Homo sapiens: one gene and its partner. The protein of the gene in region 2 interacts with the protein of the main gene of each other region in a pairwise test. Each region holds a gene or a part of one and is shown on either strand. Other genes may lie near its edges.

Region 1 (3,818 bases), on a different chromosome or scaffold from region 2:
GCTTGCAGACAGTGCAGGAGGTGGGAGAGAGAGGCCCTGGCCATCCTGCCTTTGCTGCCACCAAGTACCTTCCCGGCACCTGCCTGGCTGCATCTGTCAGAAGCAGTGAGGACGGAGGCTCTCCCTTTCCTGATTGGGAAAGCTCTTTAAGACCTGGTGTTCCCTGTAAAAAGCAGAGAGCCTGGCAGTGCACCTGGTCGGCAACCCGTTGTGAAAAGTGGGGAAATAAGCATTTATACTGGCGCAGGCTTGTAGTATTAACAACAAAAATCTGTGGACGGATGCACAGGGAGCTAATTAAAGTGGTTGCCTGTTGGGAGAATGAGAGAAAGGAGATGGATGAGGGATGAGGCTGAGCGGCTGTGAACGTTTTCAGGATTGATGTTTTTATACTGTTTGATTTTTGAACCATATGAATGTATTAATTATTCAAAAATTAAATCAAACAATTAAAAATGAAAAAGAGGACATTTATTTCAAGTCCCATGAAGAATTTTTCCCTGAATCCCAGCTACTTACATCATCCCCTGAGGAGCAGCAATGCTGCCATTTGCTGAGTGCCTGTTCCATGCCAGGCATGCTGCCATTCAGTCCACATGCCCCCAAACGCATTGTCAGTGTCTTCCTGACTCTGTGATGGGACCTAAGGCACGGCAGGTCTAGGCCCAGACGAGGGTCACCTGTGCAGGGTAGAGCAGGGACTCCCACCTAGGTCTGTCGAACTCTATTGCCCTCTGCCCTGAATTCTAGAGAGTTTGTTCTTGCTTCTACTTTAATTTGTGTAGGATGAAAGGATGCTTCCCTACATGTTAACACTGGTGTCTATGGATTTGGAAGTAGGATTCTCTCCATCCCCCATCTAATTTTCTGCAAGTCAATACAGAGTACCTTTGTCATTAAAAAGAAAATATTTAAAAAGAAAACTAAGCAATTCCTGCTTTCAAGAATGAGTTGGTGTTTCTAGGCCAAATTTGTGGTTTGCTAGCATGCCCTTTTCCACATGCTCGGTGCATATTTTGTGGTACGTGGGCCTCTGGGGACCAAGAACTTCGTTCATCTGTGCCCATTCCACAGGACGTGGCCGGCTGCTCAGGTGTTAGAAGATTGCAGAGGTTTGTGGTCATGCTTGCTTTGCTTTTGCGATGCCTGCAGATGGTCACTGCCAGGATTTGCTGGCTGCAGGGTTCTGGGTCGATTTGGTGTTCTGAATTCAATTTTATTCTTGATAAAAAACAAGATCTGCTTCTTGATGACCCACTTTGTGCTCCAGTCCCCTGGAACCCACATGCTTTTCCTGGCTGCTCCTGACATCTACACAGAACTAGGGCAGCCCCTGGGATGGAGAAGGAGGGCCTTGCTTTGGGCTTTGAAGGGTGGGTGAGGATTTGAGACATGTCAGGAGGACAAACGGCACTCAAGGTGGGAGGTACGGCATGGGCAAAGGTGTGGAAGGGGGTTTGGAAGACAGTTTTCTGGCCCAGAGCATTGTGCAAGGTGACTGGTAGGAAGGGAAGGCACGAGCTGGATTGTGAAAGGTCTCTGCCCTAAGTGGTGGCAGAGATACTTTCTTCTGCCTCTCTGCACCCTCTCTGGTGGTGGCTGTTTCCTCTCATGCAAAAGAGGACAGAGGCTGCGGGCTGTGAGTGGGATGCCCTTCCTCCTCACCCAGAGCCTGGCTGACGCTGCAAACCACATGATGGAGGGAACTTTGGGTGGAAACCAAGACTGCCTCTGCTTCCAGCTAGAGAGCATGATGCCCTGGGCCCTGGGCTGCCCACACCAGGACTCTCCTCTGGGTTGGCTCTGGAAGGTTCCTCCCTCACAGACTCAGTCATGCTCCATCCTCCAGGCTTAGAAGGAAATCGGCTTCTTGGGAGGCCGAGGCGGGTGGATCATCTGAGGTCAGGGGTTCGAGACCAGCCTGGCCACCATGGTGAAACCCTGTCTCTACTAAAACTACAAAAAAATTAGCGGGGCATGGTGGCGCATGCCTGTAATCCCAGCTACTCAGGAGGCTGAGGCAGGAGAATCGCTTGAACCCAGGAGGTGGAGGTTGCAGTGAGCTGAGGTTTCACAATTGCACTCCAGCCTGGGCAAAAGAACGAAACTCCGTCTCAAAAAAAAAAAAAGAAGAAGAAGGAAGCGGGCTTCTTTGAAGCCTCACCCAACCCTCACCCACACTTGCTAGGTGGCCTTGGAGAATCATTTTCCCTTTCTGAACCTCAGTTTCCTCATCTGCAGGATGTCAGGGTCGTCATCACTTAAGATAAGGGCTTTGAGGTTGGGGCGGCTCAGGGCAGTGCTAAGGGACCACCTCCTGCTCACCACAGTGGAGTAGCAGACCAGGAACAGTTCCCAGGGGACCCAGATTTATAATTGGATATGCACCCATAGGGTGAGCCTTATACATAGATCTTGCTGTTTCAGAATGCCTCCTCCAATCATGTTCACCATTGCATGTTATACTCCACCATTAGAGAATCATTCCTTTGGTTTCAAGTAACAAGATGATCTATGTTATCTCACTTAATTCCAACAATAGTCCTGTGAGGTCAGTATTCTTATTCCTGTTTTACAGAGAGGAAACTGAGCCTCTTGGAAGGAATGTGGGCCTGGGGGATGCCACACAGATGGATCGGACTGGGCTGGGCCTGGATGCCACCTTCCCAGGTCTGGGTCAGAGAGCCCTTTGCAGTTAATGGGAGGGTGTGTTGGTTTGCTGAGGCCTGGCACACTGAGCAATGGGTGATGGAACAGGCAGGAGAGCGACAGCTCCTTCCACTGGTGTTGACAGGCCACCCACCATTGGGCAACAGGAAGTGCCAGCTGGAGCCCTGGAGACCAGCAGCCAGTGTGGGGATGTGGTGGCCAGATGGAACTCAGGGCTTCCCAGCTGTGGAAACAGGAACGGGAAACAGCCACACTGGGGAGGAAGTCAGGGGGTGATGGGCTGAGGCAAGAGCATGCCTGCGTGGCTAGAGAGAGTGACCAAGGTGGAGAGTAGTTGGAGATAAGGTAAGAAATAGAACAGTGGCCAGGCGTGGTGGCTCACACCTGTAATCCCAGCACTTTGGGAGGCTGAGGTGGGAAGATCACTTGAACCCAGGAGTTCAAGACCAGTCTGGGCAACATGGTGAAACCACTTCTTAAAAAAAAAAAAAAGTACAAAAATTAGCTGTACCTGGTGGTGCACACCTGTAGTCTCAGCTACTTGGGAAGCTGGAGTGGAAGGGTCACTTGAGCCCAGGAGTTGGAAACTGTAGTGACTGTATGATCGCACCACTGCACTCCAGCCTGGGCAACAGAGCAAGACTGTCTCAAAACAAACAAACAAACAAACAAAAAAAACAAAGAAAGAAAAGAGAAGCAGAGAGCCAGATCTTGTAGGACTGTCATTCTAAAAAATCCCAATGCCCAGGCCACACCCCAGGTCAATTACACCCCGATTTCTGAGGGTAGGACCTGGACATCAGTATTTTTCAAAGTTCCCCAGTGCCTCCATGTGGAACTTTAGCTTGAGAGGCATCAACATAGATAATTGTGGTAATTAATTACCATTGCTGGCCAAGCATGGTGGCTCATGCCTATAATCCCAGCAGTTTGGGAGGCCAAGGTGGGCAGATCACCTGAGGTCGGGAGTTCAAGACCAGCCTGGCCAACATGGTGAAACCCTGTCTCTACTAAAAATACAAAAAATGTAGCCAGGTATGGTGGTGCATGCCTGTAATCCCAGCTACTTGAGAGGCAGAGGCAGGAGAATTGCTTGAACCTGGGAGGCAGAGGTTGCAGTGAGCCAAGATTGTGCCACTGCACTCCAG
Region 2 (3,818 bases):
GCGATGATCCTTTCCCGAGAAGTATCTTCAGTGTCTTAGGGAGGTCACAGCAACAAGGCAAAACAATAATTAAAGTACAACAGAAGGTAGTGCAGTTCTCGCTGTGGAAGGAAGCGGTCCGCAGGCAGCTGGCCCGGGATGCCTGCACCCAGGTCGAGGCTGAAGGACGGGGGGTCTCGGTGTTCCCGCAGCTCTAAGGCTGTGGCTGGGGGCTGGCTCAGGAAGTCATCTTCAGGGTGATGTGGGGGATGCAGGTGGAATGCGGTGAGGAGAAGAGGAGGGCGCTGGGCTCCGGGCCCCTGTCACAGAGTGGACTCCAAAGAGGAGTCCAAGATGTCATCGTGATGGCTGTTGCTGTTGGAGTCGCTGTCATAGCTCTGGGGGCTGGAGTAGTTGGCTGCCTCCTGCAGCCTCATCAGCATGTTCATCTAGGGGAAGAGTGGAGAAGCATGAGCTGCTTTCTGTCTAGTTGGCCGCCCACCCTGGACTCCTAAAAGGTCATGCCACCTCCTCCAGACTCACCTGGGATAACAGCCCACAGTGGAGGCAGTGGACAAGAACATGGACTTTGGGCCAGGCTTCTAGGGTTCAAATCCCAGCTTCACCAATTACTAGCTGCATGACTTTGAACACATTACTTAACCTCTTTATACTTGTTTCTTTACTGGTCAAATGTGAATAATAATAGTACCTGCCCTATAATGTTATGGGTGGATTGAGTTAATATACGTAGAGCACTGAAAACAAAATGATGATCTCTATACATAGCTTATTTATTTTTTATTTAGGAGGGGCACACCTTTCAGGCCTAGCCCTCGGCCTGGATGAAGGTGTGGCTGAGCATCCCTGTTCCTGGAACTTGGCATCAGCATCACTGACATCGGAAGCACATGGACCCCCTCCCACTTCAACAAGCATCAAACCCATCTCTTCTCCTTGCTCTGGCCAGGTCAGACTGGAGCCAACTGTGCTGCAGCTCCTGTGGAAGCCTTGGCAGGGAGGTGAGGGGGAGCACCAGTTACAAGCAAAGGCTCCGAGTGCAAAGAGCCTTCGCTTATGATTCAGGAATCTCTGGGCAAGTTACCTAAGGTATCTGAGCCAGCAGTTCGTCATCTGTGGAATGGGGAGAATGGCAACACTTCTCATAGGGTTGAAGTAGGGAATAAAATGATATAATGTGTATTAAACCCTTAGAAAAGGGGCTGGCCTGGCATATAGTAAGCGCTTAATAAATGTCATCTGTTGTCATCATCATCTAACTTAAAAGAGTTTAGCGACAGTGTTCTTGAATCTGCCCTTGTTTACATACTACGGGTCACTTGTTTGGGAGTGGGAGAGGGAATAAAAACTACTTTTATTTATAACTGTAAATTGTGTGTATGTATTTTATATTTCATATAGGAAGTAAGTCAGGAATATGGGGCCTCTCTGAGCTAGGGCCAAGATGTGGTGCAGCTGGGCATACAATCCAGCTGCCCCTCAGGATGCTTTGCAGAGTCTACCCAGATGCGCCAGGCTGCAGAAGCACCATCATCTGGTGTCCATCTGCACAGCCATAACTAGGGAAGAGGCAGAGCTGAAGTATAATGGACAATCCTTGGCAACTGGGATTACTTATTCACTCATTAAACACTCCCAGTGTGTCCACAGTATATGGTTCTGGAACAAAAGCAAGTAAATTCTGTTTTCATGGAAGTCTCAGTCTCATGAGTGAGAAGGATTAATACAGAAGAGAGCTATGATAATAGAGACATATGGCCCTGGGCAGAAAGAGCAGAACTGAGGAGAAATACCAAATATCTAACTCGGTAATGGAAGTGGCTGGACTGGCACAGCTCACTTCTGGGGGCCTGGGGTTGGAAGGAGAAATCTGTTTCTGCATTTCCAAGAATCCTGGGTCTTACCTACACACCTTCTGTGTCCAACCAGTGATACAAATGTTACTGGCTCAGAAAAGATTGTTTAGGGATGGGCTGGCCATTCTTTCCTCTAAATATACTAAATTCTATTTTCTATGTAAGTTAAGACCTCATGAGTTTGCCCCTGCAAAAAATACCTCCGTGACTTTGGCTTTCAGCAATGGTTAACGTTGCAAACGGCTGTTTAAAGTATGCTTCTTTCCTTTGTAAGACTACTGTTATAAATATTGCAAACTAGGTTGTACATGGCAACACAAATAATAAATCCTTAAAAAATACAGTTCCCACTGCAATCTTCAACAGAACCACAGCTACATCCCACCAAACAGTAGGATGGCAGACAACCTGAATCGCCTATTAATATTATTATTATTTTTTTAATCTAGGGACTTAATTAGCTGCTAGGAATAGAACAGTAAATCAGTTGTCTTTTAATCCTGCTACATCTCTTATAATATTTTCTTTCATTAGGTAATGTAAATAATATTCTCTGTTATGTTTTCTTTTTGCTATGCCTGCCAAGAAAGCTTGGGGCTAAATTTAAGGCATGATAATAGTCCTTTAACCATGGGAGGTTTTGGTATATTTGCTTCCTTTTTATTTTACTGGGCTTTTGATTTGTTAGGTCTAATTTAGCAGTGTGACTCTGTGTGGGTCTTATATTGGTAGAGTACTACAATCGATTAGAAATACTACTGTTATTGGCCCGGGTGTTTCTTTTGTTTGTTTGAGACAAGGTTTGGTTCTATCAACCAGGCTGGAGTGCAGTGGCACAATCTTGGCTCACTGCAAACTCTGCCTCCCAGGCTCAAGCCCTCCTCCCACCTCAGCCTCCTGAGTAGCTGGGACTATAGGCATGTGCCACCATGCCCAGTTAATTTTTGTATTTTTTGTAGAGAAGAGGTTTTGTTACGTTGCCCAGGCTGTAACTGCCCACCAAAAGTGCTGGGACTACAGGCATGAGCCACCACACCCAGCCCGGGTGCTTTTTTTTTTTTTTTTTTTTTTTTGAGACGGAGTCTTGCTCTGTTGCCCAGGCTGGAGTGCAGTGGCGCGATCTCGTCTCACTGCAAGCTCCACCTCCCGGGTTCACGCCATTCTCCTGCCTCAGCCTCCCGAGTAGCTGGGACTACAGGTGCCTGCCACCACGCCCAGCTAAATTTTTATATTTTTAGTAGAGACGGTGTTTCACCATGTTAGCCAGGATGGTCTCGATCTCCTGACCTCGATCCACCCGCCTTGGCCTCTCAAAGTGCTGGGATTACAGGTGTGAGCCACCCCAGCCTGGGTGCTTCTTAAAGGGCCTTTATTGTTTTAGCAACAGCCGAATAAATAAGAAGCTTAAACAGTGTGAAAGACTTAGCTCATCTCAATGGCCATGGGACTCATATTCAGGCCTCCTCCCCTCTGTGAGTCCCTCCTGCCCTCAGACCTCTCCCTGTTTACCCTATCATTTGCCTTGGGCTTCTGGTCCTTAGCAATCTCTTCCTCTGCTCTGCTATCGGTAGGAGAGATCAAAGTAATAGGATAGTAGGTAATAGAGGTGGCATCCCAAATCAGAGGGCAAAGTGTTGTATAGAGACAGTAGGTATAAGAACATTTAAGGGGAAAAATCAATTCTTAATCTGTTATCTAATACCAGAAAAAAATTTCAGAGGAGAAGTTTTTAGTGAAAAACTAAAACCATGGAAGAAAATATTGGCAAAAATGGCCCAGTCATTTGGGTCCAGCCTTCCAAAGCAAGGCTGGATTTAGTCACCTTTGTATTTCCAGAGGCTCTGCATCATACCCAACACACAGTAAGTGCTAAAGGAATGCTGAGCTGCTCTGGTGGCTGAGGACTCACCAGCGGGTCACCTTCAGCATCACTGGGGGGCATCTGCTTGCTTGTCGATCCCT

Evidence for each region.
Region 1: the proteins of NAV2 (region 2) and PSTPIP1 interact in a two-hybrid assay, tested with the Homo sapiens proteins (one large-scale study listed by BioGRID).

The regions. Positions count from the first base shown.
Region 1 is NC_000015.10:77,001,540-77,005,357, forward strand, and holds part of PSTPIP1 (proline-serine-threonine phosphatase-interacting protein 1), read left to right. Parts: intron 1-3,818. UniProt on the Homo sapiens protein: Involved in regulation of the actin cytoskeleton. May regulate WAS actin-bundling activity. Bridges the interaction between ABL1 and PTPN18 leading to ABL1 dephosphorylation.
Region 2 is NC_000011.10:20,114,743-20,118,560, reverse strand, and holds part of NAV2 (neuron navigator 2), read right to left. Parts: coding exon 3,766-3,818; intron 1,372-3,765; exon of another isoform or gene 789-1,371; intron 429-788; coding exon 303-428; 3' UTR 1-302. UniProt on the Homo sapiens protein: Possesses 3' to 5' helicase activity and exonuclease activity. Involved in neuronal development, specifically in the development of different sensory organs.